Regions from separate parts of the Homo sapiens genome. Here region 2 is linked to region 1. The links come from fine-mapping of genetic effects on gene expression. A gene starts in region 1. The other region holds a variant in brackets. All regions are shown on one strand. Distances are between the middles of the regions.

Region 1 (13,516 bases):
AAATCAGAGTATCTGGTCATTCCTGGTGAGTGGGGATCTTGGCCACAAGTCAGCTGAAGCATGGAAGGAATTCAACAATATTTGTTTTCTCACTGAAGTACTTATTGGATGCCTACTGTGAGCCGGGTACCATGTTAGATTACATTACTCATTTCTGGTCCTACGCAGTGTGAGGCTATAGTACTCTAGTACCTCGTATTTGCCCACATTATGTGCTTGCAGGTAGCTGAGTTTGTGTTTTTGTTTTTTGTTTTTGTTTTTGCTTTTTTGAGACAGGGTCTCCCTCTGTGTCCCAGGCTAGAGTGCAGTAGCGTGATCTTGGCTCACTGCCACCTCCACCTCCCAGATTTAAGCGATTCTCCAGCCTCAGCCTCCTGAGTAGCTGGGACCACAGGTGGGCACTACTACAGGCTGGCTAATTTTTGTGGTTTTAGTACAGATGGGGTTTCACTGTATCGGTCAGGCTGGTCTCAAACTCTGGGCCTCAGGAGATCCGCCTGCCTCGGCCTCCCAAATTGCTGGGATTACAGGCTTGTGCCACTGAGCCCAGCCACAGGTAGCCGAGTTTTTGATCTCAGGTCCTTGCCTTTGATTGCTCCCTTTACTCCAGCTGGAAGGAAAGCTGGACAGCCTCACATGTCCAGGTCACTCAAAGCCCAGCTCAAATGCTACTTCCTCCTGGAGGCTATCCTTCATTTACCCTGTCAGAGGTCACTTCTCCATGCTCTAAGCTCTATACCCCTCTCATATCATTTACCATCTTCTATCCTGAATTCTAGGGTTTTATTAATCCTACTCCTATGTTATGAATATTCTCTTTCGGTTAAGGAGACTGGATGCTCTGTGAGGGCAGGAACTGTGTCTGTCTCACTCACAGTTATGCCCTTTAAACCTAACATCAGGGTGGGCATGGTGACTCATGCCTGTAATCCCAGCACCTTGGGAAGCCAAGGTGGGAGGATCACTTGAGCCCAGGAGTTTGAGAGCAGCCTTGGCAAAATTGCGAGACCCTCCCTCTACAAAACAGTTAACAAAATTAGCCAGATGTGGTGGTGTGCAACTGTGGTCCCCGCCACTCAGGAGGCTAAGGTGGGAGGATCGCTTGAGCCTAGGAGGTTGAGGCTGCAGTGAGCTATGATCATGCCACTACACTCCAGACAGGGTGACAGAGTGAGAGACCCTGTCTCAATTAAAAAAAAAAAATCTGACATCAAACTTGGCACATGGTAGGTATTCAGTGAAAATTCTGGTCAGAAACAAATTATGTTGAACAACCTATTGCATGCTAGGTAGTGCATATATGTCAGGTAGTAGTAATATAATTGTGAACAAAACAGACATAGTTTTGTCCTCATGGAGTTCACTGACTTCTGGGGGAGAAAGATATTAATACAGATCACATAAATGTGTGTTTGTGGAATGAAAGACAGATATCTGTATCTGTGTTCCTGTCCCCAGTTGACTTTTTTTGTTTTGTTTTTTTGAGACAGAGTCTCACTCTGTAGCCCAGGCTGGAGTGCAGTGGTGCCATCTCGGTTCACTGCAACCTCTGCCTCCCAGGTTCATGCCATTCTCCTGCCTCAGCCTCCCGAGTAGCTGGGACTACAGGCACCCGCTACTGCGCCTGCTACCACACCCGGCTAATTTTTGTATTTTTAGTAGAGACAGGGTTTCACTGTGTTAGCCAGGATGGTCTCGGCCTCTTGACCTCGTGATTTGCCCACCTCGGCCTCCCAAAGTGCTGGGATTACAGGCGTGAGCCACCGCGCCTGGCCATGCATCACCCTTTTTAAGTGATCCACAGTATTTGTTAGTATGGATATACCATTACCCCAGTGATGGAGATTTAAATATTTCCTATTATTGCTTTTGCATTAGAAACAATGATGCAAGAGGTCTCTTTGGGCACAGTGTATGTTTCTCTAGCAGATTTTGAGAAATCCAATTGCTGGGTCATGGGGTAGCTTTTCTGTTTTGCTTTTTGTTCTATACTCCTCTGTATTGTTGGAATCATGTATTACTTTGGTGATGGAAAAAAAAACTAAAAAATAGAAAGAGGTAGGTAGATTGTTCGTGTTGTTGGCTCTTCGGAAGTAGAAGTGCCTAATCATTGTCACGTGACCCTTACATAATCTGGTAATCATTATATAATAAAGTCGGGAAAGGACGCTCCTGTCATTTCTACATCACCAAGTAGAGAAATCACAAGCCTTCAACTGTGTTTAAAAGATGAGAAACATGGCCGGACACAGTGGCTCAGGCCTGTAATCCCAGCACTTTGGGAGGCCGAGGTGGGCGGATCACGAGGTCAAGAGATGGAGACCATCCTGACCACCTTGGTGAAACCCCATCTCTACTAAAAATACAAAAAATTAGCCAGGCGTGTTGGCGCGTGCCGGTAGTCCCAGCTACTCCGGAGGCTGAGGCAGGAAAATGGCGTGAACCCAGGAGGCGGAGCTTGCAGTGAGCTGAGATTGTGCCACTGCACTCCAGCCTGGGTGACAGAGCGAGACTCCGTCTCAAAAAAAAAAAAAAAAAAAAAAAAAACTGAGAAATGTGACTGTCTTTGGAGACTTTGGGTCTTTTCTGATAGTAGATGATGACCAGGGTTTCCTACTGGTAAAGCCCTTCTTCAAAATCTTTGTTTCTCTTTTGCCTGTCATAGACCCACAGAGCTGGAGGGGACTTTTTTAAGCAGCCCCACGTGAAAATGCAATATTGTAAGAGCTACCAAACCAGAGTGCTGAGTTGCTGTAAGAGGCAGACTTAAGGTGGGACAGTTTGTCTCAGATGGAATTCCTGTGAACATCATCACATTGCAGATAATTAAGAGAGGAGCTTAAACATGAGCTGATAAAGAACACAGGGACTTTGAGCGGTGCTCAGGCAACGACAGGTAAACACAGTAATGCTACTGTTTGGACAGCAGCAGATTGCTGGTTCTCCAAACGTTTCCCAGTATTGTGTCACTGACTCATCACACAAGCCCCACCGGTTTTAGCTGGGGTCACCAAGACTCAGAGTGAGAATCCTACAATCAATGAACATCTGTTGTGTGCCTCCTCATCAGACATGTGCAGAGCTCGGGGGGAAATAGATGAATAAGAAGCTCAGGGTCTGGTGGGGATGTCAGATTATATATATATATAGTTTATCCGAAAGTGCTGGGATTACAGGCGTGAGCCGCCGTGCCCGGCTTTTTTTTTTTTTTTTTTTTTTTTTTTTTTTTAAGAGACGTGGCCTCGTTATGTTGCCCAGGTTGGTCTCGAACACCTGGGAGCAAGCCATCCTCTCGCCTCAGCCTCCCGACTAGCTGGGACTACAGTCGCGTGCCACCACGCCTGGCTTTATTATTTAATATTACAGGTTAGAAAGCTGAGGCTCAGAGAGGTTAGGTAACTTGTCCAAGGTCACACAGCTAGTAAGTGGCAAAACTAAAAATAGAACCCACGCTCTTAACCGCCGCCCACGGCCCGTAACACCCGCAGCCCTAGCAAGGCTGGATTCCAATCACGCGTGATTTCAGCATCTCACTGGCTCTCTTTGAGCCTCGGTACTTCTGTCCGTAAAATGGGGGCGAGGGATCCGACCGTCAGCCCCTGCTTGCTTGTGCGGAGTCATGAGTACAGCTCGTGGATCATGATAAGTGGCAGGTCCGGGAAGTGGAGGCCGAGTTCACGCAGTCAGCACTCATAGCTCCCAGCTCCCTGCTCCTGAGCGGTTTCCATGACAACCCGGCCAGCCACCATCCCTAGGCCGAGCGGCTTGCGTCACGTCCGGCCTGTTTACTTCCGGGTCCCAGTCTCAGACGCAGCGATGGCTCGTTAGGCTCCAAAGTGCGGTTCCGCCGGTTTCGTCCTCGCTCTTCGGCCTTCCGCTTTGTCCTCCGCCTCTGGGTTGTAGTCTCCGTCGGCCGCGGGCATCGACCGCTTCCCGGAGCCAGCGCGCAGCCGTGGTCCACCCTCTCTTCGGGCCCGCCTCATGGTGACATCATTTCCGGGCCGAGTGTTTCCGGGTCGCTGCTGGCCCCCGGGTACTGGTCTCAGTACCCCTGCAGCCGGCCGGAGAGGCTAGAGCCCGACGGGGCCCGGCTCCGGCGGCAGCCGCGCCTCTCGCTTGCTTCCCTCGGCCGGGCCGTCCTCGGCGGCAGTGTCAGGGTGAGTGACGGGCGGCCGCGGGCGGAAACTGCCTTCGGGGCTTCCCCAGGCGGAGGGGGCGCCAGACAGCGGCAGGGCTCGGCTGGCCCGGGAGCGGGGTACCCTCACGGCAGGCAGGACTACAGGTGGGCCCGCTGTTTCGGCGCTCCCGGGACCCCCAGCCTATCCTCAGGACCCCCATTCTCCCGGGAGCTGCCTCGCAGGCTCCTGGGACCCGCCGAGGGTGGCTCAGGGCCGCCCAAGAGGAACACCCCTCTTCGGCGACTGGCCAAACAGAAGGACACCCCGATTTCGCCACGAGGCAGTTACCGCGCAGGGGTTCCCAGTTCAGGCTCTGGCGGCACACCTGGGTTTGTACTCACTGTGTGACCTTGGATAAGTCACTTCATCTTAAGAGCCTCAGTTGCCTATTTAAGTGATTGAACCTGGTTGCTAGGGCTGGAGTGGAGATGGAATGAGATCATGCAGGGCCTCTGGCATACAGCAGGCGTCCAATAAGTGATAGTTCCTGTTACTTCATTCAATTCACGAAGCCGTAGGGGGGGCCAGAATTTGAGACTGGGCTGTTTTTCACAACTGACGTGGCCCCCCGAGGCTGTAGGAATGACCGAGCTGGGACTTAGCAGCCGCCAGCTTCTGTCCCCTGCAGGGAGGGAAACAGCTTCCTTCAGAGCTTCTCCGAGAGAGGCAGCTGCCACTAGGGAAGCTTCTTTCAGCACCGCTGAGGTTATTTTCAGAGGTTTGGAAGGACTCTGTGTGAATTTCTTTGGAATCTAGTAGGAGTGTGGGGACCTTCTGGTGTTTCACAGCCAGTGGAAGGTGCCTTGGATGTTTCTCGGAGCCTCTTGCTTGGAACGAGTGCATTGGTGTGGGTGGGGAGGTGGAGGGGGTTGAACTGACTTCCCCGTCTCCTGTTTGGAGGCTGATGGAGCTAGACCAGGGATGTGTAAACCTGTGGACAGGGGCAGTGCACAGACCAAAATAGGTCTGCCTGTGCAGAGAGGGGGCGCCTTCAAATGCTGCTTGGGGAACATTTCTGCTTGAATGGGCCAGCTGAGGTAAAGCCAAGCTAATGCTTAGCTACTCGGAATCACTTCACTTCCATGCAGTGGGACTCTAAACAGATACAGCTTTCCTCTTAGATGTTCAAAAAATAACTAAAGAAGCCACTGGCTCCCTGACTGTGCAATATCTCTTTTTCCATTGACTTGCTTTTCAAGAAGGTACCTAGATTGTGGGTGCAGGAGGTGCTGACTGGAGCCGTTGACTCTGGGCACCTGCCTGTCTCTGTGTTCAGGATATTCACAGTGCTGTTTTTTTGTTTTTTGGGTTTTTTTTTTTTTTTTTTTCCACCAGACTGGCACGGCTTGGCGTTCCAATCCTTGGGTTGCTTGGAGAAATTAGCAGCTTCTGTCGCTGGGCTGTCTCGGTCTCCTGTAACCACGATGTTTTTGCAGAGAGCGTATTTTGTTGTTCTTGCAGAGTGCTGGGAATGAATTGCTGGCTCTGTGCTCAGAAAAAACACCAGCTATGACCAGCTACAAGGCATCTTGTATTCTCAGAAAATGTTTTCAGCAGGGATGATGTCAGCTGCTTCATCACTGGCCGATGTCTCTGACCAGCCTCTTTCCTTGGCCCTTGAGCTTACATCATATAGAGATTAGCTCTCCTAGCCCCATTCGGTGTGGGAAGATGGGAATTTTGCTACTACAGGAATTTTTGTAACTCAACTCTGCTCGCGCCGCCATAAGGCATTCTAACTTAGCCAAACACTTTCGAGTAGAGCTGTCCAGCAGATGCAGCAGGATGGCTTTGCAAGAGTCGGAGTTTTGGCGTTAGACCTAGGTTCAGAGCTCAGATCCACTTCTTCCTAGCCTTACGACTTAGGGTAAGTGAGTTGGCCTCTCCGAGCCTCAGTTTCCTCTTTAACCTTGGATCTATCCTGTGGATTTCATTGGTTTTCACAGAGCAGTTAGCAGAGGGATGCCACACAGTAATCCCTTGGTAAATGGTACTGATGTAACAATAAATGAGTGAGGTAAATTGGAGAAAGCCCAGGCATCAAGGGCCTCCCAGCAAGAGTTCAGATTCCAGCTCTGACCCTTTCAAACTCTGTTGGGCAGGTTGTTTTAATGGGAAGAGCCTGTTTTCCTTATAGAGTTGTGAGGATTAAATGGGATGATGTAGGTAAAGTGGGAAGCCCAATGCTTAGCACATAGTAGAACCTCAGTAATTGTTAGTCTCTTTCTTTCCTTTCCTTATTGACTGATTGAGACAAGGTCTTGCTCTGTCACCCAGGCCGGAGTGCAGTGGTGCCATCATAGCTCACTGCAGCCTCAAACTCCTGGGCTCAGTGGATCCCCCCACCTCAGACTCCCAAGTAGCTAAGACTACAGGTGGGTGTCACCACACCCACCTAATTTTTTTTTTTTTTTTTTTTGTAGAGACGGAGTCTAACTATGTTGTCCAGGCTTGTCTTGCCCTTAATTATCTTTTAGCTTTTACTTTCTTCCGCCTTTTCCCTCACCTACCCAGGTTGGTTTGAGATTTGTTTTAGATAGGCTTCCTGTCCTTATTGTGAGTATTTTGAACATCAGCTGGGCTGTTTGGATCCCTTTCCTTTATTTATTGTTTTTCAGCAACAAACAAGGGTGTGGACTGTGGTGCGATTATAGAGCAGCAGACGCTGAGCCGAGCTTGAGACTGGCTGACTTTGTAAAAAATCAGTCTCTTTGAGTTCAAGGCTGACTTCCTTGGAGAAAAATTACAGCAGTATTCGGAAGCTTAATGTCTCTGTGTTTGAATGGTTCTCAGACTACCAAAAAACAGACCCTGGGGCCAGAGGCGTGATGGCAGCTTCTCTTAGATAAGTCAAGAATGGTAAATGCATGTGTGACTATCCTCTCCAGTGGTGCAATACATTTATTTATGTAGAGATGGAGTTTTTGCTCTGTTGCCCAGGCTGGAGTGCAATGGCACGATCTCAGCTCACTGCAACCTCTCCCTCCTGGGTTCACGCCATTCTCCTGCCTCAGCCTCCTGAGTAGCTGGGATTACAGGTGTTCGTCCAGCTAATTTTTGTATTTTTAGTAGAGGCGGGGTTTCGCTATGTTGGCCAGGCTAGTCTCAAACTCCCAATCTCAGGCGATCCACCCACCTTGGCCTCCCAGAGTTGTAGGATTACAGGCGTGAGCCACCGCGCCTGGCCTGCATTTTTATTTTTTAAGAGAATATACATTTTAAATTGTTTATTTTTTTATGGACAGAACAGTATGAAGTTAGAGCACATACCTACTTTGATACTAGGTGGTATGCTCTTCCAGCTAGAGCTGCAGGCAGGATGTGTCTCCTTTATTGCTGTCCTCTACCTGTCCCACCCATCCCCATTCCCCGACTGGGTCCAGCTCAGGCAGAGGGTGGGGGCTGCAGAAATGCTTGCTGGACATGGGAATCGTGGGGTGGTGAGAGGAATACAGGTTCCAAGTCAGAAGGCCAGGCTTGGATTATCGGGTCCATCATCTGCTAACCTTGAGCTACTTGTCGTACCTCATGCCATCTTTCTGAGCCCGTTTCTTTGCTCTCCAGCTGATCTCCCAGGATTCTTGGGAGGTACCAATGAGAAACTAAAGTGATGGCATCGTGAATGCAGACATCCTTTGCAGCATCCATTTCTCTTTTTCTCTTTTCTTTTTCTTTTTCTTTTTTTTTTTTTAGAGACGGAGTCTCGCTCTGTTGCCCAGGCTGGAGTGCAATGGGGCGATCTCGGCTCACTGCAGCCTCCGCCTCCTGGGTTCTAGCAATTCTCCTGCCTCAGCCTCCCGAGTAGCTGTGATTACAGGCGCATGCTGCCACACCCGTCTAATTTTTTTTTAAATTTTGGTAGAGACGGGGTTTCACCGTGTTGCCCAGGCTGGTCTCGAACTCCTGAGCTCAGGCAATCCACCTGCCTCGGCCTCCCAAAGTGCTAAGATTACAGGCGTGAGCCACCGTGCCTGGCTGCAGCATCCATTTCACCTACTTTATCAAGCACAGGCAGGCTCTGTGTTAGGCATCGTGGTGAACAACACAGACATGGTCCTTGCCTTTATGGAGCTTACCACGAGCTTACCAGCTTACCAGGGAGGGTGAGGGGTGGACAAAGAGAGGAAGCTAATGAATGAATGAAGTTGATAGTTTCAGATTGTGGTTATCGTAGGAGAATGTGACAGTGTGGAACTGGGAAGGTGAGATAGGGTGGTACCTCTAGAGGCTGATGTTTGAGCTGAGGCCTGAATGATGAGAATCTTCCTGAAGCAGAATTTTATCCCAAGTGGATTTTGTTTTCTTTTGTAAAGACAGGGTATTGCTATGTTGCCCAGGCTGGTCTCGAACTCCTGGCCTTGAGCAATCCTCCTGCCTTGGCCTTCCAAAGTTTAGGGATTACAGGCGTGAGCCCCCGCACCTGGCCCCTAAATGGATGTGTTTGCCTCCTGTACTCCTCAGCCTTATTTGTCACTGTAGCACTGGGCTCCCTCAGCAGTGCAGTGTGTTGGAGACAGTGGCCTCTCTGTGTCCCTAGTTTTGCTACACATCCCACCTCTCACCGCACCATTAGTACTCCCAGGAGTCTCCTCCTGGGGACAAAATCTGTGGAGGAGCCAGACTACTGGCTCTTTGAGATGAGGATGATTTTGTTGACCTCCTGATAGTTGCTGGGCTCGTAGGACCTTCCTAGCTGAACACAGGTCTGCTAAAGGAGTCCCCCACATGCCAGGCCCAGTCCTGCTGCAGCTTCTCTCAGCCCCTTGCTGTCTCCCACACTCAGCAGACATGAAGCACACAGGTCACCTTACTGAGCAAGATGGTCACAGGCCTGCACCCACGGAGCTTCTGGGCAGGAGCAGCAGGACCAGAGCATGTGAAAATGCACATCTACCACCCAGTCAGAGGTATTTGCCCCACTCAGAGAAGGCCTGTCCACTTAGGGGTACAGCACCTTCAGACAACAGCAATGGCCATCAAGGACTTCCCGGAGCCGGCTCTCTGAGCAGCTTCATATTCCATCATGCATAATCCTCTCGCCAGCTCTGGACAGAGGCGCTATTATTAACCCCGTTTTATAGGAGAAAACCGACACCCAGGGAGGTGGAGCAATTTGCCCAAGTAACCTGGAGAAGCAGCCCTGGCCTCACTCGCAGGTGCCTGGCCTTGGACCCCGTGTCCGTGACCCTGCGCGTGTTGTCTCCCCTGGCCCTGGCAGTGTCCCTCCATTAATCCGGATTCGCTCCCAGCGTTGTGGTGACAAGAATATTGCTGGATCTGTGCCTGTTCTACTAACAAGTGGCTAAGCAGATGACAAGATTGTGTAAAGCCTGTGTCCCAGCTCAGAACATTCTATCCTCTCCCAACAGGGGGCTGTCAAGCGCTCTGGTGATAAAGGGGCCGCAGGCTGTCAAAGGCCGGTAACAGCACTCCAGGGGCCGGTAGCCACGGTGGCCTCTTTTGAAAATTGTAAATAAGACCGTATCTCTCTCCCCTCGCTGTAAACTCTTCAGTGGCTTCACGTGGCTCTTTGTATAAAATATCGAATTCTGAATGTGCTCTTGCGGCCTTGGGGCTGAGGGTCCCGCTGATGCTGGCATCTGCCTCTCCTCATGCCCCTGCCCTCGTGGCCTCGGCCTCACTGGCTGCAGTTCTGTTACTGTTCCAGGCTTCCTGCCTCAGGAAAGCAGGGTGTGGTGGGTAAGGGCATGGACTTTGGAGCCAGATTGCCTGGGTTCTGAGCTCAGCTTCTCTGCCTCCTGAGAGTTCTATAACCTTGGACAGTTTCTTTTTCTTAAAAATTTTTTTGTATTTTTGTAGAGACGTGGTTTCACCGTGTTTCCCAGGCTGGTCTCGAGCTCCTGGACTCAAGCCATCCTCCCCCGTCAGCCTCCCAAAGTTCAGGAATTACAGGTGTGAGCCACTGTGCCTGGCCTACCTTGAGCAGTTTCTAATGTCTGTGTCTCAGTTTGCACATGGTCCACTGGGGCTGCCTGTAGCGTCTCTCTCCTAGGATTGTTTAAGAAGAAAAAGTGAGGCTGGGTATGGGGGCTCACACCTGTAATCCTGGCACTTTGGGAGGCCAAGGCTGGTGGATCACTTGAGGTCAGGAGTTCGAGACCAGCCTGGCCAACATGGTGAAACCCCATCTTGACTAAAAATACAAAAATTAACCAGGCGTGGTGGCAGGTGCCTGTAATCCCAGCTACTTGGGAGGCTGAGGCAGGAGAATCGCTTGAACCCGGGAGGCGGAGGTTGCAGTGAGCTGAGATCACGCCACTGCACTCCAGCCTGGGCTACAGAGCAAGGATCCATCTCAAAAAAAAAGTAAGCGAGTTAGTGTGTGTGAAGCTCGTCACGTGTCTGGAGCCTCTGGTACTATTAGCTCAGGGCCTTCCTCTACTGCGACTCCTTCCCCGGCCTCTTGGCCTGGCAGACTCCTCATCCTTCAGGTCTGTTGCTGTCTCAAGAGGGCTTTCCTAAACTCGCCCTTCCCCAACGAAACCAGGACAGGAGCTCCTGCTGTACTCACCCGAATTTCTCTTTCAGGAATATTAATCGTATTTTTCATTTGTGAGCACAACAAAGTCAAGGTCCATCTCTCTCTGGCCTCTGTTGTAACCCTGCTTGTAGTACATGCTCTGTAGTGTGCTGCTGGGGTCCAGTGTAGCCCAGGCCAGTTCTGCTGTTCATTTTGCCTCAGCGACCTGAAGCCGAAGCGCGACCGTATCGAGGAATGACATGCTTCTTGTTCCCCTCCTTCCAGAGCACTCCGCTGGTCCAGGCGGCAACATGTCCATGCTTTTAGTGATGTCCCTGCCTCTAATCCAGAAGCCATGGAGGAGATAAGGTAGCCCCCCTCGATCGGATGGGGAAGCCCAGTTCAATGGATACTAAATTCAAGGATGACTTATTTCGGAAGTACGTGCAGTTCCATGAGAGCAAAGTGGATACCACCACCAGCAGGCAGCGGCCTGGCAGCGATGAGTGCCTGCGGGTGGCAGCCTCAACCCTGCTCAGCCTGCACAAGGTGGATCCCTTTTATCGATTCCGGCTGATCCAGTTCTATGAGGTGGTGGAGAGCTCCTTGCGCTCGCTCAGCTCCTCTAGCCTGCGGGCTCTGCACGGCGCCTTCAGCATGCTGGAGACGGTGGGCATCAACCTCTTCCTCTACCCGTGGAAGAAGGAATTCAGAAGCATCAAGGTGAGGTCCTGGAGCAGCCTCCATACAGGCCCTCCTTCTCTCTTCCTGCCCCTGGCAGTCCCTCCTGAGAGGCTATGCCAGTCTGATCCCATCCATCCTGTGCTCTCAGATCCTTCCGGGCTCCGAACCTTCCCCGTCTCTCCAGCATCACCTCTGAACCGTTTCTGGCCCGGCTGCCACACCTTAAGCAGAGAAGCTGGGAAGGCAGGGGCAGCCAGGTTATGCAGGGTCTTGTGGCCCAGGGCAAGGCTTGGATTTGTTCTGAGTAGGCGGGGAAGGAGGCAGTGTGGGATCTGGCTTGCATCTGAAGAGGGTCATTCTGGCTGTGGTATGGGAAGTAGGCTGTAGAGGGGTGGGGGGAGGTGGGAGGGATGGGGAGAGCAGTTAGGAAGCTTCTCAGCGGTCCCAGCAAGCTGAGGGGTGTTCTGTACTAAGTGGGAACAGTAGAGGAGGAGGGGGAATTGAGAGAGGGATCCTGAATCAGACCACGCGGGGGATGGCACAGGAGAGCTGTCACCTAGCCAGGCTTCTTCATTCTGCCATGGGAGGAGTGGTAATCAAGAGAGGGGATGGCACAGGAGAGCTGTCACCTAGCCAGGCCCTTCAGTCTGCCGTGTTACTCAGCCCCTCATGGAAATACCAGAGAGGAACGTTCTGATTGTCACCGCGTTCTGCCTGTAATCTGGCCCCTTTATTCAGCCATGTTTGCCCAGGCTCTCTCTTCATATGGAGTAGAGTCTTCGTGCCCCACTAGGAAGCGAGAGGTTTTGCTTCCTGTGTTTAACAAAGTAGCTGCTGCCAGGCGCGGTGGCTCACACCTGTAATCCCAGCACATTGGGAGGCCGAGGCGGGTGGATCACGAGGTCAGGAGTTTGAGACCAGCTTGACCAGCACGGTGAAACCCCATCTCTACTAAAAACAGAAAAATTAGCTGGGCGTGTTGGCGGGCGCCTGTAATCCCAGCTATTCAGGAGGCTGAGGCAGGAGAATCGCTTGAACCCAGGAGGCGGAGGTTGCAGTGAGCCAAGATCGCACCACCGCACTCCACCCTGGGCAAAAGAGCGAGACTCCGTCTCAAACAAAAGAAAGGAGCTGCTGGGTCATTTCCTTGCACAATTCCTGAGTGCTTAGCAAGCCCCAGCTCCTGCGTCTTCTGCCTCCCGCAGGGTGAGGCTGTCGAGATCCTTCCCTGCCCTGCCCTCTCCCCGCCGCCCCACTTCAGAGCTGGACATCCTTTGCTTTGACATAGTCTCTGTCTTGTGTCTCTGACAGAAAACCCCACCTTTCTTTTCTACTCCCTCCCTTCTAGACCTACACGGGCCCTTTTGTTTATTATGTCAAGTCGACATTACTGGAAGAGGACATCCGAGCCATCCTGAGCTGCATGGGCTACACACCTGAGCTGGGCACTGCATACAAGCTCAGAGAGCTCGTGGAGACCCTCCAGGTGAAGATGGTCTCCTTTGAGCTCTTTCTGGCCAAAGTCGAGTGTGAGCAGATGCTAGAAATCCACTCACAAGTGAAGGACAAGGGCTACTCCGAGCTGGACATTGTGAGCGAGCGCAAGAGCAGTGCAGAGGATGTGCGCGGCTGCTCGGACGCCCTGCGGCGGCGGGCAGAGGGCCGGGAGCACCTGACGGCCTCCATGTCACGAGTGGCACTCCAGAAGTCGGCCAGCGAGCGGGCGGCCAAGGACTACTACAAGCCCCGCGTGACCAAGCCCTCGAGGTCAGTGGATGCCTATGACAGCTACTGGGAGAGCCGGAAGCCACCCCTGAAGGCCTCATTGAGTCTTCGGAAGGAGCCTGTGGCAACGGATGTGGGGGACGACCTCAAGGATGAGATCATCCGCCCATCCCCTTCGCTGCTGACCATGGCCAGCTCCCCCCACGGCAGCCCGGATGTGCTTCCACCCGCCTCCCCCAGCAACGGCCCGGCCCTGCTGCGCGGTACCTACTTCTCCACTCAGGATGACGTGGATCTGTACACAGACTCTGAACCCAGGGCCACCTACCGTCGGCAGGATGCTCTGCGGCCGGATGTGTGGCTGCTCAGAAACGATGCCCACTCCCTCTACCACAAGCGCTCGCCCCCTGCCAAAGAGTCCGCCCTCTCCAAGTGCCAAAGCTGCGGG
Region 2 (12,260 bases), 70 kb before region 1:
TCGTGGAGGGTGGCCTGAGGGTTCCTTGTGGGGGGGTGTGTGTGAGGGGAGTGGGGTCCCCTGAGTGGGGTGGGAGCTTCCCAGTGAGTCTGTCAGCCTTTGTCCTGTAGCTCAAAGCAGCTGTATCCAAACAGCTCTGGATACAAAAACCCACGCAGACAGGCCAGCTCAGGAATCCCCCAGGGCTGGGGGCCAGCTGCCCTCCCTCCACAGAAATGGCCATGGGAAGGCCTCTTCCAGAGCCCAGGCAGAGGACACAGAACCAGAAAATGGTCTTCATCAAAGTCCTGTGGGGCTGATGTGGCCAGAAGTGGGGCACTCAGGAGGGAATTCCATGGCAGTGAGAAGGATGTGGGGTCCTTCCTGCTGGAGCTGGGGAAGGCTGTCAGGCAGGGGCAGGTATGGAGAGGAAGAGGGAGCCTCGAGGGTCAGCGGGGACATCCTGAGCAGCCGGACTCTTGGTGCTTGTGGAGCAGGGACATTCGGGAGAAGGTCCGAGCACACGCCTGGCACTGGTACTTCTTGACATCTGAGTGGGTCTGGAGGTGGGCCCGCAGGTTGGAGCGGTCAGCGAAGGCACGGCTGCAGTGGGGACAGGAGAAGGGCTTCTCGCCTGGGGAGAGAACGCCAGAAAGGCCGAGTGAGCCGTGGGACAACGGCTGGCAGTGATGGGAATCCCTCCCCGCATACCCCAAACCCTGAAAGAATCCCATGATCCCAGGAAAGCCAGGCCTCCGTCAAACACACAGCCAGGGTCCAAAGGCCGGGACCTGACGGAGCTCTGCTGCTTCCCACTGTGCAACTCTGAGCAAGTTGTCTGGCTTCTCTGAGCCTCCATTTTCCCACCTGTAAAATGGGGCTATTCACCCCCCACTCATAGGGGTTGATAAGTGACAGAAGGTAGGGTACTCATCCACATCCCGCAGGGACGTGCGAAGTGGTCAACAATGACTCAACACCTTTACTGATTCATCCTACTGTCACTTGATCCTACTGTGGTCTCATTTCAGAGACAGTGAAACTGAGGCCCAGAAGTAGCATGTTCAGGTTCCCCTGGCAGGACCCCAAAGCCTCTGATTTCACCTACTGCCCTTACTGCCTTCAGTCAAGGGAGGACGTGACTGGTGTCCTTACCATCAGTCCTGGAGTCATTCCTTGATTTACTCTGTTGGGGGCCAAAGCCAGAGTCAGCCTTAAGAGGCTTCCCCACCCCCACCTCCAAGCTGGTTAGGCCACTCCTGGGGCCCGGCCAGCAGCCTGCTTTCCTCACCACCCCACCTCCTGCGCTGTAATCCCAAATCTCCTTGTCTGTTCTCCAATCAGGCTGAGTCCCATAAGGGCAAGGGCCTCCTTTGAGTCCCTTCTGAGCCCCAGCCCAGGGCCTGGGCCCCTTTCTATCACCCAAGAGGCTACGGAAACCTGTGGCCCTGACACACCATCTGCCTGGCCAAGGCTGTGTTGGGAAAAGTCTTGCACATGGAGCTGGGTGCCCAGTAAATCCTCAACAAGCCCTTAGAGAATAAATAAGTCTGTTTTAAAAATTAAAGAGGCCTCAGAGGAGTCTGCCCCCTCACTCATGCCTCATAACAATCCCTGCTCCAACCAAAAAGCTATATAGTTCCAAAAACACCAATAATGTTGATTTGTTTTTTTCTGGGGGATGCAGCATTTTCCAAATAAAAGGTCATAACAGTAACCCATTAAACAAAAATCTATTGAGGCTGGGTGTGGTGGCTCACGCTTGTAATCCCATCACTCTGGGAGGCCGAGTGAGGCAGGATTGCTTGAAGCCAGGAGTTTGAGACAAGCCTAGGCGATAAAGCAAGACCCTGTCTATAATTTTTTTTTTAATCTACTGAGCTCCTACTAAGTGCTAGACACTATTCCATAATACTGAATAGTCTTTTTAAAAAACATGCAATTCTCCAATCCCCTCACGCCCAGTCTGATATGCCCGCAAGGTCAGGGCCCGCCTGTGAAATCCCAGCGCTGGATGGAATTTAAGAGCTGAGAGTGAATTCATTCCATCACCTCCTGGGTGCCTAGGGTGCCACACTGAGCTACCAGGGTAGGAGAGAGTCCAGAGGATGGCTCCAATGGGACCCATGCATTCAATAGGGACTTATGGAGCGCCTGAGAGCTGGACTCAGTCTCATGGGGCAGAAATGGAAACTCGCCACTCCAAAGGGTGGGGGACATAGAGGATTGGGGGAGGGGTGCCTGAGCACTACTCCACTCTGCCATTACTCAGCAGCCTCCACACGCCACGCCTGAAGGGTTTGTTGATTGCATTCTAAGTCTTCATGTGAATGAGAAGGGTAAGTTCACCCTTGTGAACTAAGGGCTGACTCTGGAGATCTGGAAAAGGGGCTGGAGTCCATTTGTAAGACCAGAGTTAGGACAGCACCTCCCTTCCCTTCCCAGGGCTGTTGGTGAAGTCCTGAGCACTACCCTCCTGTACAGTAAGTGCCCAAAGTGTGATGAGACCTGAACCCAAACAAAAGGGGAAGGAGACATTCTAGGACATGATGGGCTGGGGGCGGGGGCTGTGTGCACACGCAGGAGGCACAGACCCCCACTCCTTGGATCCCTCGCCCCCCAGACGCCTTCATGGTACTCCTGGCAAGTGTGAAATCGGCACCAGGCCGGCGGGGACAAAGGGCGCCGAGGGGGGCACTGTACATGCGATATCCCCGGATTAAAGGGGCCTGCCATGCAGTGGGCCAGCAGCTGTGACTGGAACAGGTGCTGGGCACCGCTGCCCCATGCACCTGCTCCACCCCTCCCAGCCCCCACCCACTGGGCCCACCATTAAGGCACACAATGGGAGTCAATGAGGACCGCAATGATACATTTCAAGGGGATTTCTGTGTCTCAGCCATGCCTTTACATTAAAATAATGTCCAGATGGGAGGTGAGAGAGGCAGGCAGGACTGCAGCACCCTGAGGGGTTCAACTGTCCCAAAATAGAGCCCTGTGAGCTGGGCAGGCACCCAGGAGGCCAGGCAGTTGGACCTTTACATGTTAAAATCAGAGCAATTGGTGCACGAAGGAAGAGAAATGGGTAGCCTTAGTCGAATAAGATGCCAATAAAGCCCGCGAATTGCCAGTCCTCCCAGACACCTCACTAACCCTCACCGCTCAGAGGTCAGGCGCCAGGCCAGGAAATGGCAGAACCTGGCCAGCTTGAACCCTGTGGAATCTTCTCCCTCAACTGTCACTCTCCAAAGAGCAGCTCCAGGCACAGTGGCTGCCACCATTCAAGTTCTAAAAAGTTCTACCTTTTCTCCATGTCCAGAAAGTTTTTTACACATTTAGTAAATTTTCAAAAGACGTGATTGTGTTTTCTGCCCCAAAGATGCCGTTTCCTGGTCTGTGTGCTAGGATTCAGTGGGGGTGGGGAAGCCGACCTGAGAACCGTTCGGGTATAATAAATTACTATAAAGTGATTAGCCACCTTTACAGCCACTCTCTAAAACATATGCTATCATAGTTTTCCCCTAAGGCTCAGAGAGGTTAAGTTGCTTGCCCAAAGTCACACAGCAAGGAAGCAGAGCAAATGCCAAGGAACCATTTTTGTGAGAGTTTAGCAGGTACCGGCACTTTGCCAGGTGCTTCCCATATGCATTCCTGCATTTAGCCTGTATAGAAACCCCAAAAGCTGTTCTCATGCCCATCTGAAAGATAGAGAAAATGAGGCTCACAGAAGAGAAACATCAGCCTAAGTTTTGAGAAAGTTCTCAAAGAAGGATTCAGAGCCAGGCGGGGGGTCTGACAACATCCTGTCTGGCTAGGGAGGGGGCGGACCCGGGAGAGGGTGTGGCCGGGTGGGCCCCTTCACACCTGGCCCCCACAGCAAGGTGTTGGTTGCACCTTTCCCATATCCAGCTCCGACCCATTTGGCTGAGAAACAGGCTGCAGGGGATTGGGAAGGTGTCTGCTTTGCCCATCTGCTTAGCTGATGAAGAAAGTTTCTGCCAAACGTTTCCAGAGAGCCAGGCCCTGGAACTTGAGCTAGAAGTTAGAAGACTCGGGGCCTCAGTGTCCACAGCTTTGGGAATGAGAACAGCAAGCCCAGATTCACAAAAGCTGCCAGAGAGAGCAACGGTGGGGGCGCCTGGAGGGGCACGTACCAGTGTGGGTCCGGACATGGCCTTGTAGCAGCCAGGGCCTAGAGAAGGCCTTCCCGCAGGTTCCGCAGACGCAGGGCAGCGTGTGGCTTCGGATGTGCATCTTGAGGGCACCCAGGCTGAGGTATTCCTTGTTGCAGTATTTGCAGTTGAAGGCCTTTCGAGCCTGGAGATCCTTGGCCTCAGAGAGCTGGGCCAGCTGCTTGGGCACTTGGCCCAAGCCTGGGAAGGCAGCATAGGCCTCGGCCTCCAAGGAAGAGACTGAAGTAGAGGAGAAGGACGAAGGAGCCGGTGAGGGTGGGCTGGGGGGCTGGGAGCCTTTCCCACTGTCCTCATCTGACAGGGAGGTCAGCTCTGCCACCCTGGGACTCTCCTGGAGCCGAAGGGAGGCCCAGGCAATTGGCTGGGCTTGGGGCGCCAGGACAGAGTCCCAGATGAGCATTGGCAGCGAGGCGGTGGGGTTGAGGATCTCCGGAGGTGGGATGGCTGCCAGCAGGTGGGCCTGGTCGTAGGGCTGCTGGAAGGTAAACTCTGAGGGAGAAAAAGCAGAGTCAGGCGTTAATTAAATCATTCACTCAATCAACAAACATGAGCCCACCGCTGGCCAGGGGCTGGGTGGGGCCGATTCTCAATACATAATTAGATCAAAAAAATTATCCACAGGACAGACCAGGTTCCTGCCCTCCTCGCCCAGGTCACCCAATCTGAGTCTCTCACACGTAGGACCCCCAGTTGAAGGAGGTCATTTCCTGATCTCCCTCTCCTAAGTCCCCAGTCTCCAGCCTGAGGCCAGAACCCCATCATCCCAGCCCCGGAGCCACCACCCTGCCCCAATCCCCCTCCTCACACACATCTCGTCTCCCCACCCCTCCCCTCAACCCTCTGGACTCCGGACTCTCCCCAGCAGCGTCCAGAGGGCCCTCCTGACACAGGCCTCCTCTCCTTCCCCTCTTGCGGAGCTCCTCCGCCTCTCGCCGGCTACAAAGGCCCCCCAAGCTGAAGACCCCTGCCCTCTACACGGCACTCCCCCAACCACCCAGACAGATCCCCGGAACTGGGGACCCACTTGCCCGGTCTCCCGAGCCCGCAATGGTCCACAAAACATCCTGTGACTCGATCCTGGCTCAGGCAGGCCGCCTCCCTCAGGTGCCCCCCACGCAG[C/A]CTTCGCCTGTCTCCCCCAAACCTCCTGGAGCCCAGAACCCCTCCAACGCACCTGGATTAGAGTCCTGCAGCTCGCTGTAGTTAGGCTTCCGATTGGGGTCGGAGGGCTTCCTGACGAGGAAAGAGCGCGGCATAGTGGTCGAGGCACTGGGGTCGCCGATTCGCGCAGCAGTAGCGCAGAAGAACCACTCGCTAGGCCGTGCCGCGGCGCAATGAATGCAGCAGCGCCGCCAACTCCCTTAAGTACTCCGGGGGGGTGGTGGGGGGTGGGAGGGGCGGGGCCTTATCTGCCACGCCCCTTTGTCACCTCCGCGCCAATCGGAGGCTCGTCTCCGCCGAAGGCCACTCCCCGAGCAGGTGCGCCGGCTGCTGGCCGGGCTCGCGCCGCGTGGCGGTGAGAGCCCGGGCGGGGACTCCTCCGAGGCGGGGTTCGCTGGCGCAGCGCGGGTCGTCCCCGGTGCTGGGGCTGTCCGGGGCGGGACGTCGAGCGAAGCGAGGCCTCTGCGAGGTGGGACCCCGGCAGGACGCCGCGCGCCCACCGGCTCAGCGCCCGGTGGTCTGAGCGCTTCTGACGCCCCCTGGCGCTGCGCGCCGGCCGGGACACCTGACCTTCCGACGCCCGCCCCCGCCTCGGGCTTGGGAGGGGGCGGAAATTTCCTCCGCCCGGCTGGCGCCTGGAGAGCGTGGCATTGACGAGGGAAACGCACATCACTGGGGAGGAAGCGAGGAAAGGGACACCGCACGTGGCTCTCGGCGGCTTGAAATGCCACGGCCTTTTTGCAAAGCAGCCTGGCCCAGCTAGCCAAGAGCACCCGTTCCTTCCCTTATCCAGTGTTTACGGAGCGCCCAGCACGTGTGGGGCACTGTACCTGGGGCCAGGGCACAGCCCCGGACAGAACACTCAGAGCCTCTCCCGAAGGGTAGCTTCTGGTCCAGTGAGGGAGACAGACGAAGTAAACAGATAATTACAATGCAAAGGGAAGTGTGCTTTGGTGGGGGAGAGACGGGACGCGGCGACCGTTAAGAGGCGGGTCACCTGACAGGGGGTCGGGGTGACTTCCCAGAGGAAGTGAAGAATTATCAAGGGAAAAGGCCCGAGGGAAGAAGTGGCAACTGCTTCAGAGTAACTCCTAGAGAGCAGCTTCCAGGGATGGGGTGGGATGGGCATGCCCGGAGGGGTCAGATGTGCTGGGCCCCAGGGCCTCGTAGGAGTTTGGACTTTGCCTCAAGGGCACTGGGGAGCCACCGAAGGATTTTCAGCTGAGGAGGGACCTGGTTAGAGTTTCGTTGAAAAAGATCCCTGTAGGCTGGCGGGAGAAAGAAGGCATGGGCCGGGCGTGTCTCCTCACCCCGTGAAGATCCTCGATCCTGTGTCTAAAGGCTGTAACACGGCTCCATAGGGGCCCTGACTGAATGCATGTGGGGTGGGCCCAAGTGAGGGGCAGCTGCACCCCCACCCCAGCTTCCCTGGGAGGCGTACCAGGCCCGGGGGTGGCTCTGAAATAAACCTCACAGGTCTCACCGTTCTTGTTTCCACCTGTGAAGGAAGACTATAAAAACCTATAAGCACCCCACACCACCACCACCACCAACCTGAAGGGCAGAACTACTGTCTGTTTAGTCACTTGGTGCCGGGTGTGACAGCCGTGAACAAAATCGTCCTCCCCTGGTTCTAGCTGGAGAGCGGGCAGTAGGGTGGGGGACAGAGGCAGTAAGCAGTCATTAAGCGGAATACTCCCCGTCCCGTGTCAATTTAGCTCCAATCAGGATCCTTTGCTTGAAGCCAAAGTGAGGCCAGATCACCCCCTCCTCTGCTCAAACCCTCCCATGCGCCTGTCTCAGAGTAAAAGCCAAAGTCCTCTCCTCAGCCAACTCGGCCCCGCTGCTCTGACCCCAGCTGACATTGGCTTGAGCCTCTCTCCCTCCCCCATGCACAAGGATCCCACCCCCAGCCTTCCTTCTGTTCCTCCAACATCCCAGACCTTTCCCACCTTGGCACCTGCTGCTCTTCCTCCTCTCCCCTACGTCTCTTGCTCCTAGATCTTCACGCTGGCTTCCTTTCATTCTTTGTTTCAGCAGCAACTTCACTAACTGCTCAGCCTCGTTTAGTGAAGAGAGAAATGGCAAATTCAAGCCACAGTGAGCTGCCATTTCACGCCCATCAGAAGGACAACAAGGAAAAATTTGGTCACTATCAAGAGTTGATGAGGAGGTGAGAGCTGGCGAGAGGGTCGGTGGGCATAGTCACTTTGGAAAAGTTTGGCATCAGCTAGCAACAGGTGACTCCTCTCCCTGTCTGTCCTCAAGCCAACTGCATCCCAGGGGCTGCAGCTGACAAGTCTGTCCTCAAACCAACTGCATCCCAGGGGTTCTCAGCTCTGGCAGCACATTAGATCCCCACAGGGAAGGATTAAAACACCTAAGCCTCGGCCCACCCCACCCCCACCCACATCTTGATTTAATTAGTCTGGGTGGGGCCTCTGGCATCAGCATTTTAAAAAACTCCCCTGGGGATTATAATGAGCAACCAAGCAAAGTAAAGAACTGTTGTCCAGCCCAAACCCCGAAAAAACAAAAAAGGATATTCATTGTACCCTCGTTCCTAATAGCAAAAAAAGCAAAAACTAAAACAAAACTGGATACAACACAAATGTTTATAAACAGTAGACTGGATTAATGAACCCTGGTGCAATCCTGTAATAGAATACTATACAGCAATAAAAATGAACTACAACTCCATGCAGCAACAGGGATGAATCTCAAAAACACAATGTCGAGCAGAGGTCACAAACAAATGCATAGTTATTTGGATTTATACGAGGTTCTGAAGCAGGCAAATGAAACCCTATATTATTTAGGGATGTATGTGGGGGTTGTAGAATTAGAAAGAAAAGCAAGGAAGTGGTTTTTTGTTTTGTTTTTGAGACGGGGTCTTGCTCTGTCACCCAGGCTGGAGTGCAGTGGCACAATCACGGCTCACTGCCGCCTGGAACTCCTGAGCTCAGCCTGCCAAAGTGCTGGGATTACAGGGGTGAGCCACTATGCCGGCTGCAAGGAGATGTTTGATACAAAATTCTGAAGAGTGGCTGGTGAGGAGGGGAGGCAAGAACAGGCTGCACATGAAGCTTCTAGAATTTTGGTAATGATCTGTTTCCTAGGCAGGGAGGGATCTTTATTGTTAGTCTTTCTACTGTACATGGACTATTTATTTTACCGTATCTTCATGACATGGTAGTGTACAGAGACAATTTAAACACTTTTAGGTATGAATAATATATTTAACACAAAAAATGTAAGTCACTTCCTCAGGGGAGCCTTCCCTGATCACCCTAGCCAAAGTAGGACCCACCCTTGCCCCAGCACCCACCTTCTTTTTTCTTTTTTTCCCCCTTTTTTCACTGAGACGCGCTACCATGCCTGGCTAATTTATTTTTTGTAGAAATGGGGTCCCACTATGTTGCCCAGGCTGGTCTCAAACTCTGCGGCTCAATTGATCCTCCCACTTTAGCCTCCCAACTTGGTGGGATTACAGGAGTGAGCCACCGCGCCCAGCCCACCTTTCTCTCTCATTGTCTTATTCTGTTTTCTTCAAAGCACATAATGGGGGCTCAATCAAGTACTTGCAGGCAGCCACTGCCTGGGCCTCCCGCTTTCCACTTTCCTTCAGTGGTCAGGCACCTGCGCGGGGCATGGGGGTGGGAGGCAACGCAGAGGGGAGGGGCCTTGCTCAGATCGGATCGAATTGTCCCCGCCACCCCCTCCAGGCCCGCCCTCGCTCCACTCCCTCCTGCAGGCGGCGGAGACCACGAGGTGAGAGGAGGCTTCGGGCCAGGCCTCTCGGCCGCAGACCCAGCTCCCTTTGCAGGGGAAGGTGAGGTGACACTTTTGATACTGTGGGGTCAGGTCCTCCCGGAAATGGGCGACATCTGCGGCCCAGGTGGCCTGGGACCCGGCAGGGCCAGGCCCTCCCCAGCTCCCCGCACGAGGGGGTCCCGCCCCAGGCCTGGGGCGCGGTCCTCTGGCGCCCTCTGCTGGCCAAGGCGCCTCCCTGCAATCGTCGCGGGGTGCAGGGGGCACGTGCTTTTCAGGGAGGTGAAGGCTGGTATAACTGCCGGGAGGGCAATCTGGGAATACCTAGTGTGCTCACGAAAGGCTTCTGGAAGGAAGGTACATTTGAATAGACACCTGCATTTTCTGCAGGTGCCAATCTCCCACTAGAAGTAAAACCAGTAGCTAAATAATGTGATTTACAGTTACCCAACTAAAAGAAGAGTCTCCCTCCATTCCAGACCTCCTTTTCCCTCCCCAAAGCAACCTTTTTTTTTTTTTAAACCAGTGTCTTGTATGACCTTCCAGGGATGGCCTATGTATATATTAATATGTGCATGGGCAGTGCGTGGTGGCTCACACCTGTAATCCCAGAGCTTTGGGAGGTCAAGGTGGGAGGATCGCTTGAGCCCAGAAGTTTGAGACAAGCCCGGGCAATATAGCAAGACCCTGTCTCAAAAAAACAAAACAAAACAAAACAAAAAATAGGCAGGTTACATGCCTGTTGTCCCAGCTACTCGGGAGGCTGAGGTGGGAGGATCACTTGAGCCTGGGAGGTAGAGGCGTCCATGAGCCAAGATCATACCACTGCACTCCAGCTTGGGCAACAGAGTGAGATCCTGTCTTTAACTATATATATATATATATATATATATATATATATATATATATATGTATATATGTACAGCCCTTTATGTATTACAAATAGGAACCTCCACACTAACCTACACCTTGCTATAGTAACATTTTTTTGTTTTGAATCGTCATCACATGGGTAATGCTATAACAATATTCAGTGTTTTGAAAATCATTCCATATCATTACACGCAGCTCCCTTAGTTTTCTGCAGGGATGCGGACTATTCATTGTATGGATTATAGCACAATCACACAATTTACCTAACACGAAGACTCATGATGGGCATTTAGGTTAGATTGCAATTTATTGGCTACTACAAATAATGTGGCAATTTCAATGAATGCCCTCTACACACATCATTGCACTTCACATCAAATGGTATGTTATATAAAATGTTGATACATTTGTCCAAATGCCATCCAAAAAGATGAAACTGAACTATACTCCCACTAGCAGGGAGTTGAGGGCCCCTTTTCAAAAGTTGCCCAACACAGAGTATTGTCTTTTTGTTTTTCTTTTTTGAGACAGGGTCTCGCTATGTTGCCCAGGCTGGAGTGCAGTGGCATGATCATAACTCACTGCAGCCTCCATCTCCTGGGCTCAAGTGATTCTCCTACCTCAGCCTCCTGAGCAGCTAGGACTACAGGGCTACAGGCATGAGCCACCACACCTGACCCTGTCTATTTTTTATTTTTTGAGACAGTCTCACTCTGTCACCCAGGCTGGAGTGCCATGGCATAATCCCTGCTCACTGCAACCACCGCCTCCCAGGCTCAAGTGATCCTCCCACCTCAGCCTCCAGAGTAGCTGGGACTATAGGTGCGAGGCATCACATCTGGCTAATTGTCTTTTGCTTTTTTTTTTTTTTTTTTTTTTTGTAGAGCCGAGGTTTTGCCATGTTGTCTAGGCTGGTCTCAAACTCCTTGGCTTAAGTGATTCACCTGCCTCGGCCTCCCAAAGTACTGGGATTACAGTCATGAGCCACCTTGCTGGCCTTTAACTTTTTTATCTTTGCCTGTCTGATAAGGGAAAATGGGATCTCCTGTTGTCATTTGCATTTCACATGACTAGGGTGGAGCATTTTTTTTTTTTTTTGCGACAGAGTTTCACTGTTGTTGCCCAGGCTGGAGTGCAATGGTGTGATCTCGGCTCACCACAACCTCCGCCTCCCACGTTCAAGTGATTCTCCTGCCTCACCCTCCCATGTAGCTGGGATTACAGGCATGTGCCACCACACCCACCTAATTTTGTATTTTTAGTAGAGCTGAGGTTTCTCCATATTGGTCAGGCTGGTCTCAAACTGCCAACCTCAGGTGATCCACCTGCCTCGGCCTCCCAAAGTGCTGGGATTACAGGCATGAGCCACCGCACTCAGCCGTGAGCCACCACGCCCGGCAGTGTGGAGCATTTTTTACATACACCAAAGCCATTTCTGTTTCTCTGTGCTCTGAACTATTGCTTCATGTCCTTTGGTCACCAAATTGATGAACTTGATTTCTTTCCTTTTTTAAAATCCTGCATGTCCTTCCAGTGAATGAACTTCTTAATTTCTAAGAGCTCTTTATTAGACTGGTGGCCCCTGTTGATTAGCTCATTATCAGTGAATGAATTGATCAGGAGTTGGAAAGTTAATCTTGACCAGGAGAAAGACATTGTCTACAGAAAGTTCAATGAATGAGTCAATGCTCTACTGCCATCCTCATCCTGGATTTAACCTCTTCCTATGCCTCACACTTGCCTAAAAACAAACAGTGATTCAGCCGTGGGCCTTATCCAATAAGCCCTCTGTGAAGTCACCATTTCAGAATACAAATTGCTTCTAAGGGAGGTTTCTGGGTCAAGGTCTAAGTCCGTTGGGCATGACCCATGGGGGGAGGCTCCAAGATAAGCTATACAAGCCTTTGTAAAATGGTATTTATTTTTTATAATTTTAAAAATTAGAGATGGGGGTCTCACTATGTTGCCCGGGCTAGTCTCAAACTCCTGGGCTCAAGCAAACCTCCCACCTAATCCTCCCAAAGTACTAGTATTACAGCTAGCCTTTTCATTCCTATTTACTGAGCACCTGCTGGGTGCCAGGCTCGTTGTAGGAGGCTCACCTCAGGGATGTCCCTATAGCATCCCAAAGTTGTATTCTAGGCTCCTGCATACAGGCCGAGGCCATGCGGGGACCAATGAATACATTACCCATCTGCCCCGAAAAGAAGGAAAAAGCTCTGGATGTAATGAAATCATATCAAGATATTAAGTGCTAAAAAGCAAGGTGCAAGCCGGGCTCGGTGG

What was found. PIP is the estimated chance that this variant, and not a neighbour inherited with it, causes the effect.
Region 2: its variant is fine-mapped to the expression of SPATA2 in whole blood (INTERVAL, PIP above 0.99).

What each region holds. Positions count from the first base shown.
Region 1 is chr20:49,906,021-49,919,536 of GRCh38, reverse strand. SPATA2 (spermatogenesis associated 2) reads left to right here and starts at 4,008. Exons shown (of 3, transcript NM_006038.4): 1 at 4,008-4,157; 2 at 10,945-11,382; 3 at 12,692-13,516. The coding sequence starts at 11,047. It overlaps LOC105372653 (a long non-coding RNA gene), which reads right to left and starts at 3,715. Exons shown (of 3, transcript NR_134564.1): 1 at 3,452-3,715. RefSeq lists enhancers at 3,967-4,026, 4,821-4,990, 9,331-9,625 and a silencer at 4,057-4,306.
Region 2 is chr20:49,976,225-49,988,484 of GRCh38, reverse strand. It overlaps SNAI1 (snail family transcriptional repressor 1), which reads right to left and starts at 5,505. Exons shown (of 3, transcript NM_005985.4): 1 at 5,344-5,505; 2 at 4,134-4,661; 3 at 1-613. The coding sequence starts at 5,425. The coding sequence ends at 429. RefSeq lists silencers at 5,491-6,010, 9,072-9,171, 9,272-9,331 and an enhancer at 6,163-7,100. The variant C/A (reference allele first, on the strand shown) is at 5,292.